Homo sapiens: one gene and its partner. The protein of the gene in region 2 purifies or fractionates together with the protein of the main gene of each other region. This does not show direct contact. Each region holds a gene or a part of one and is shown on either strand. Other genes may lie near its edges.

The links.
Region 1: the proteins of OVGP1 (region 2) and AKAP10 purify together in Homo sapiens (affinity purification with mass spectrometry; one large-scale study listed by BioGRID and IntAct). This does not show direct contact.

What each region holds. Positions count from the first base shown.
Region 1 is NC_000017.11:19,971,088-19,975,115, forward strand, and holds part of AKAP10 (A-kinase anchor protein 10, mitochondrial isoform 1 precursor), read right to left. Parts: intron 1-4,028. UniProt on the Homo sapiens protein: Differentially targeted protein that binds to type I and II regulatory subunits of protein kinase A and anchors them to the mitochondria or the plasma membrane.
Region 2 is NC_000001.11:111,424,936-111,429,082, forward strand, and holds the start of OVGP1 (oviduct-specific glycoprotein precursor), read right to left. Parts: upstream 2,801-4,147; 5' UTR 2,787-2,800; coding exon 2,762-2,786; intron 2,157-2,761; coding exon 2,127-2,156; intron 1,707-2,126; coding exon 1,502-1,706; intron 505-1,501; coding exon 448-504; intron 1-447. UniProt on the Homo sapiens protein: Binds to oocyte zona pellucida in vivo. May play a role in the fertilization process and/or early embryonic development.

The DNA of each region.
Region 1 (4,028 bases), on a different chromosome or scaffold from region 2:
TGATCCTCCTGCCTCAGCCTCCCAAAGTGCTGGGATTACAGGTGTGAGCCACCACACCCAGCCAAACGTGTATATATATACATGTATGTGTATTTTTTTTAATGGCATTATTCTGCACATCTTTAAAAATCACGCAAATGGCTGAGCACGGTGGCTCACGCCTGTAATCCTAGCACTTTGGGAGGCCAAGTTGGGTGGAACACTTGAGGTCAGGAGTTCAAGACCAGCCTGGCCAACATGGTGAAACCCTGTGGCCACTAAAAATAGGAAAATGAGCTGGGCATGGTGGTGCATGCCTGTAATCCCAACTACTCGGGAGGCTGAGGCAGGAGAATCACTTTAACCCAGGAGGTGGAGGTTGCAGTGAGCTGAGATCACGCCACTGCACTCCAGCCTGGGCAACAGAGTGAGACTCCATCTCAAAAAAAAAAAAAAAATTAATTACACAAATGACACTCTATACATATCTGACCTGTATTCATTCAATAATCTGACATGACTATTGAACCAGTTCTAGTTCATTCACGCAGCTCTAGTTTATTCATTTTAGCTACTTAATTGTTTTATAAATATACCTTTACTCATTTTCCTGTTAATGAACATTTACTTTATTTCCTAATTTTCACTTAAACATTCAACTAGTGAACATTCTAGTACACGTCTTCCTATGCATATAAGCAAGAATTTCTCTAGGATAAGCCTCTAGACATGGAATTGCTAGGTAACAAATTATGTGCATTTTTTTCAGCCAGGAGCATTGGCTCACGCCTCTAATCCCAGCACTTTGGGAAGCAGCTCACCTGAGGTCAGGAGTTCGAGACCAGCCTGGCCAACATGGCAAAACCCTGTCTCTACTAAAAATACAAAACTTAACCGGGCGTTGTGGCATGTGCCTGTAATCCCAGCTACTCAGGAGGCTGAGGCAGGAGAATTGCTTGAACCCAGGAGGCAGAGATTGTGGTGAGCCGAGATCATGCCACTGCATTCTAGCCTGGGCGACATAGACTGTCTCAAAAAAATAAATAAAAAACAAATTATGTGCATTTTTAATGAAAGTGACTGTACCATTCCATGCACTCATATAGCCATGCTTCATATTCTCATCCTTGGTATTTTTAATTTTGCCAACTTACTAGTTTTGAAATGGCATTTGATGTTTTTAATTCATTTCCTTGTTTCCTTTGAGGTTAAACATCCTTTCATGTTTATTGGTCATTTTGGCTTCCTCTTTTGTGAACTGCCTCTTCATGTCCCTTGTCTTTTACTTATTACTTGCAGAAATTCCATACACGTCCTGGATGTAAATCTTCTCTTCTAGAAGTATCTTAGGTATACTTTATTGTATGAAAGTTTTAGGTTTTTTGCTTTGTTTTGTTTTGTTTTTTTGAGACGGAATCTCACTCTGTCGCCCAGGCTGGAGTGCAGTGGCGCGATCTCAGCTCACTGCAAGCTTCGCCTCCCGGGTTCAGGCCATTCTCCTGCCTCAGCCTCCCAAGTAGCTGGGACTACAGGCGCCCGCCACCACGCCCGGCTAATGTTTTGTATTTTTAGTAGAGACGGGGTTTCACCGTGTTAGCCAGGATGGTCTCAATCTCCTGACCTGGTGATCTGCTCACCTCGGCCTCCCAAAGTACTGGTATTACAGGCGTGAGCCACCGCGCTTGGCGAAAGTTTTAAGTTTTAACGTAGTCAAATTTACACAACATGGATTATATTTTCCTGTGTCTTATTTTAAGCAATATCCCTTCCTATCCTGAGATCAGGATTGTTCCCCCTACCTGTTCTTCTACATGACTTCAAGTTTTGTTTTTTTAACATTCCAGGCTCTTATTTACCTGGAATTTGTTTCTGCATCAGGGATTGGCAAACTACAGCCCATGGGCCAAATACAACCCACTACCTTTTGTTTTGTTTTGCTTTAAGACTCCGTCACCCTGGCTGGAGTGCAGTGGTGCTATCTCAGCTCACTGCAACCTCTGCCTCCTGGGTTCAAGTGATTCTTGTGTCTTAGCCTCCAGAGTAGCTGGAATTATAGACACCCACCACCATGCCCAGCTATTTTTTGTATTTTTAGTAGAGACAGGGTTTCACCATGTTGGCCAGGCTGGTCTCAAACTCCTGACCCCAAGTGATCCATCTGCCTTAGCCTCCCAAAGTGCTGGCCATGCCTAAACTGGCCCACTACCAGTTTTTGTAAGTAAAGTTTTATCGTAGCACAGCCATGCCCATTTGTTTACATATTGTCTATGGCTTCAAGGATAAAGGAGAGTGTGACAGAAACCATATGGTCTGGAAAGCCTAAAATATTTATGATTTGGCCCTTAACAGAAAAAGTCTGTTGATCTGAGATATATGAGAGGAGGCAGGAAATTATTTTTTGCCAGATGATGGATAACTAGCATCATTTACAGATCAGTCTATCTTTTCCCAACTAGGAACTCTATATCCGAAATTCCCAATATACCTGGGTCTGTTTCTGTGCATTTGTTTTGAATATATACCATAAGTATCAAGAATGGAATGGAAACCAAATGGAAGCCTATGGCAAAATAATGCTGCCTCCTCAATCTTTATAAAACCAGCTCCCTCTTGACATTTAAGCTAAGATTTGAATGTCATCTCCTTAGAGGACATCCTTAACCACTCAATCTTAACAGAGATGACTGCCTAGACCAGGGTGTTAATTGTCACAGATGGTGAGACGTGGTAGGATTTCGATATGTGTGAGGTAGACCTAACAGATTTGCTGATGGATCAGATATAGAGTAGGAGGAAAGAAGAGGTTCAAAGATGTACTAAAGTTTTGGGCTGAGCAACTAAAAATCCAAAAATGCAGCCGGGAGCGGTGGCTCATGCCTGTAATCCCAGCCTTTGGGAGGCCGAGGCAGGCAGATCACCTGAGGTCAGGAGTACAAAACCAGCCTGACCAACATGGTGAAACCCTGTCTCCAAAAATTAGCTGGTCATGGTGGCGCATGCCTGTAATTCCAGCTACTTGCGAGGCTGAGGCAGGAGAATCACTTGAACCCAGGAGGCGGAGGTTGCAGTGAGCCAAGATCCGCCACTGCACTCCAGCTTGAACGATAAGAGCGAAACTCCATCTCAAAAAAAAGAAAAGAAAAAAAGCCAAAATACTACTTCTTGAGAAAAACTGATGAGCAGGTTTAAAATGACTAAATCTGGCATAAAATTTTAGATATTGTAAGTTGAAGGTATCTACTGGATTAAGCTTGTCCATCCCGCGGCCCAGGATGGCTCTGAATGTGCCCAACACAAATTCGTAAACTTTCTTAAAACATTATAAGTTTTGCGATTTTTTTTTAGCTCATCTGCTATTGTTAGCGTTAGTGTACTCTATGTGTGGCTCAAGACAATTCTTCTTCCAATGTGGCCTAGGGAAGCCAAAAGACTGGACACCTCTATATTGGTCAGGTAGAGATACAAACTGAACCTAAAGTTGGATATACCAGTCTGGATTCAGGGGCAAGGATCCAACGTAGTGATGTAAATTTGGGACTCAATGCATTGATGGTATTTAAAGTCTGAATCGAATCCCTAACAGGACCATCTCCAGCTTCTACTCTTACCACATCCAGCCTCCAAAAAGCACCTAGAATGATTTTTTTTTTTTTTTGAGACAAGATCTCACTGTGTTGCAGTGGTGGGATCATAGCTTACTGCAGCCTCAAACTCCTGGGCTCAAGTGATCTTTCTGCTTCAGCCTCCTGAATAACTCACAACACCCAGCTATTTATTTTTTCTTTTTGTAGAGATGGAGTCTCTCTATGCTGTACAGGTTGATCTCGAACTGGCCTCAGGTGATCCTCCTGTCTCAGCCTCCCAAAGCCCTTGATTACAGGCATGAGCCACCATGCCCTAGAATGATCTTTTTAAGATATAAGTTCAGATCACTCCTCTTTCAAAATTTTAAATTAATATTCTTTCTGTATTTTGTTTGACACATGGTCTCACTTTGTCATCCAGGCTGGAGTGTAGTGACTCAAATATGGCTCATTGTAGCCTCCACC
Region 2 (4,147 bases):
TATGTCCCAGCACTAAGCTTAGCATTTTGTTATTTCCTTTCCTCTGTTCCAACCCTTTGAGGTTGATATCCCTGGATCCACTAATAAAGTGAAGAAACCTGTGAGGTTTGGGAGTTATTCTCATCCTGCACCTGATTCCTCCCCTTGGAGACAAAACCCTTGCCTCTTATGAAAGGTTGAGGAAACAATTATGAGTGCCTCATTTTGTCCCTAATTTTCCCCCAGCCTCTTTCTCACCACCTGCTAGAACTTCCTTGTCTCCCCTGACCCACCATGGAGAAGAGGCCAGGATATCCCTTGAGTGCAGGGGTCTAAGATTCATGAGTTGGGGAAGTATTTGCGCTAGCTTTGCTGTCCGCATGGCCAAGCTGCCTTCCCCCTCTGTCTTCACGTCTAACCAGCCTGCTCCACCCTCCCAGGGAGAAGAGAATAACAGCAAAGTCTCACCTTGAGGTGCCAAAGTTCCACCCGCCGATGGACAGTAGTGTTTTCAGCTCTCTGTTCCTATGATGTGAGAGAGAGGGTTGATGAGCTGGGTTCTTCACTCCGGTGGGCAGCTGCTGCCACATTCTTTTATTTTGCTCATTGGAAGAAAACAGGAAACAGGAGAGATGGGAGGTAAGGAAAGGAAAAGGGGGAAGGTGATAGAAGGAGAGAGATGATGAGCACAGGAGAGAGGAGGAAAGACAGAGAGAACAATCAACCCAAGGGCCATCACAGCCCAACAACTCCAAGGCTGCACAAAGTCTGCCAAACTCGCGCATGTCCCTATGATGCTTCCAAAAAAAGAGCAGTCTAAAATGTTTCTCTTTTTCCTATTCAACAAATATTTATTGAGCAATGTCTATGTGCCATTTACTGCTTTAGGCACTTTAGAACAAAGAACAACACAGATAAGCTCCCCACTTTCAGGGAGTTTATAATCTAGTGGCATAGAACTTTTACTCTGCCCATCTATAACCATTAATGCAGTAACAAGCCTTCCTTTGGGCACAGAGAGATCCCAGGAGTTCCGGAGAGAGGAAAATGTAAGCAAACACTTACTGAGCACCAACCCTGTGTGAGACACTGACCTAGCCACTGGGGATACAACAACACAGCAGACACTGCCCCTTCCCTGGAGTAGCTCACCGGTAACAAACGGTAATAAAAACATGAGCATTTGTTGAGCATTTGGGATGTGTAAGCCCACTTTAACAGCATTAATAACTAAAATCCTCACAACTAGGTTCAAAGGCTGAGTTGGGTTTTGCCAGGCAGAGAAGAGAGAGAAGCACATTCCAGGCAGAGACAACAGCAACTACAAAAGTAAGGAGGCAGGAAAGAGCTCAAGGTGTCTGTGACAAGGAGTTCTCAAGTTGGGGGTGCTCTGGACCCCTATTTGAGAGGAAGGTAGGACTGGAAGAAATAGAAGAAAGTTGAAGAGTAACAGGAGAAATAGACTGTTATCTTATACCTGTGAAATCTGAAAATACAACCCCCACATCCAATATGAACACACCTCTCCTTTAGTTTGTTGAACTCTGGGTAGAGAATTTTCTCATCCTGGAGATCCTTAGCAACAATCTGATTGTTGTTCATTGAGGCAAAGGCAAATATCAGGTGGGTGCAGAGAAAGGGGTCCAGGTCATGGGGCAAGATCGAGGCAGGGCCTGGCCGACTGTGTGCCCAGTTGGTGAAATAACACACGAGTTTATGGGCAGCACCTGGTAAGGGAGAGCACACATTAGTTGGCAAAAACCAAGGGAGGGGATGGAGCTCAGCTTCCAGAAAGCAATGTGAACGCAGCCCAAGAGACCAGGCCACATTTTCACATCCTCTCTCCCTGGCCCTGAAGTACACCTCAGAACTACACTGAGGTTCTATTCCTCCCCCACTGCTGAGGTCTCAGGAAGAAAACAATGCCTTGTGAAATCCTGGTCAGAACAGATTCTCAAGTCTGGACCAAGGCACACAGTCAGCGACACAAACAGCAGGTGACCAAAAATCCTCTGAGAAACTGTGTTGGATCAATAATCCCTGTCAGAGAAGCCAGGGCAAGGTGGGCTGCAGGGGACACTCAATGTGGAGGACTTCTCAGCCAGAGACTCTCCCTGGCTCTGGAAGGGAAAACACAGTTTCCTTACCATCGTGGTGTTTCAGCACAAGAACCAGCCCTGTGAGAAACAAAGGAAGGAGTCACACAGAGATTCATACCCTCACCAGAGTGGTATGGCACAGCACACCCTCTGATTAGCAAGGGTGCCCACCAACACACCACCTTATGCAGATGCAGACACACAAATGGGGACACACACACCATTTACTCGTTTCCTAGTTTCTAAAGTTGGACCAGTGGAGCTAGATATAAGTTCCTTTTCTTTTTGATAAACATGTGTATATGCTCATGCTTTGCCCAGGGACAATGACAAGTGTTAGAAGTCCCAGAAAAAGCTCGAGGCCAGTGGTTCTGAACCCTGGCTGCAAATTAAGAAGTACTGATATCCTGGCTGGTCATGCAGAGATTCTAACAGAACTGGTCCAAGGTGGAACTCAGGCATTTAAAATTTCTAATGGGCCACCAGGTTTGAGAACCACTGCTCTGACCACTTCTCCCTGGGTCCCTCTGACCTCTGACCATTAACTATGGCCCATCCCATCTCTACCTAATCTAGGCTTCCCTGAGTCTCAGGCTGCTCTCTCAGGCACCAGAGAGATGACGAACTCATAAAGCCTGGCACTTCCTGGACTGAGTGACACTGCTGGGACCTGCCACACTCACCAACCCACAGCAACAGCTTCCACATCTCAATGGTCTGATAGCTGTGAGTCCAGAGATGCAGCCCTTTATAGGAGCTTCCCTGTGGATAGCGCTGGGACAGCCCAGCTACACATACACACACACACACACACACACACACACACACACACACACACACACACACACCCCAGTGCCAGGATCAGTAATTTATGAGAGTCACAGTGACCCCAGAACGACCTGGCCTCCCTCTCCAACAAAGCAACAGCACCAGGTTGGCACTGAATACCAGGAAGAGGGTCTTCCTGGTATTCAGTACCACAGGGACTGAATATGGGGGAGAAACCCCATATGGTAGCAGCAATTCTATTATTAAAAGATTATTGGCTGGGAAGCAGCGTAATTTTTAAAAAAAGTTTAAACCATAGCTTTGGATTTAGGCTTTGAATCCAAGGTTTGAATTCAAAGTTTGAATCTCAGTGTCACCACTTAGAAGTTTTGTAATCTTGCACAAATTACCTGCCTCTGTGAGGTCAGTTTCCATGCTTGTAAAATGGAGATGACAGCTCAGACTTACCTCATAGAGCTTTATAGAGATCAAAGAGATAATGGGTCAAAAATTGTTAGTTTCGTGCTCGCATATAATAAGGGCTCAGTGAATGGTAGCTATTATTAGGGATGTCAAAAGGGTTGCCCAGCAGAGCAGAGTTCTCAAACTCAGATGACGCTTGCCAGGCAGGTAATGTAAATGGATGGTGTAGATGCAATAAAACAGCTATCTCTATTTTATTAGAAAAGTAACAGTTCATGCCCAATGATGTACATCAACTGACATGAAGCCTCTTGGTCAGGAGACAACAGAGATCAGTATAAAGAGGGACAGCACTCTGAGCAGCTGCTAATGGTTTCCCTGCAGGGAAACAGACCCAGTGTTGCTGGATCCTTCAGTTTCTCAGGAGAAGGCAAAACCTGAATTTTTATGAGTCAACAATATTTGAGTCAGTATATGAGCCAATTGTGAGGATGTGTCATGAACCTCAAGAATATGATGGATACAATTCTGGACATCTAAGAGCCAGTTTTTTAAAAATGCAACAACAGGAGTATGAAAGATAAAATATATATATATATATATATATATATATATATATATATATATATACCGTTTTTATTACCAGACTGCAAGCCAGATGCTTTTATGATTCATCAGTTTTCTTTCTCTGCTACAGAGGGTCTTGGACCTTATGCCCACCTTCACAGAGACTGATGCTGCTCATCTAATCCACATGAACTACTCACGAGGTATTAACCAGATGTCAATATAATCCACGACACAGGGAAATAATGACTAGTGGTCAAATTCATATAACATCTATCCTTCATTTCCAGTATGAAGAAACCAGGAGTCAT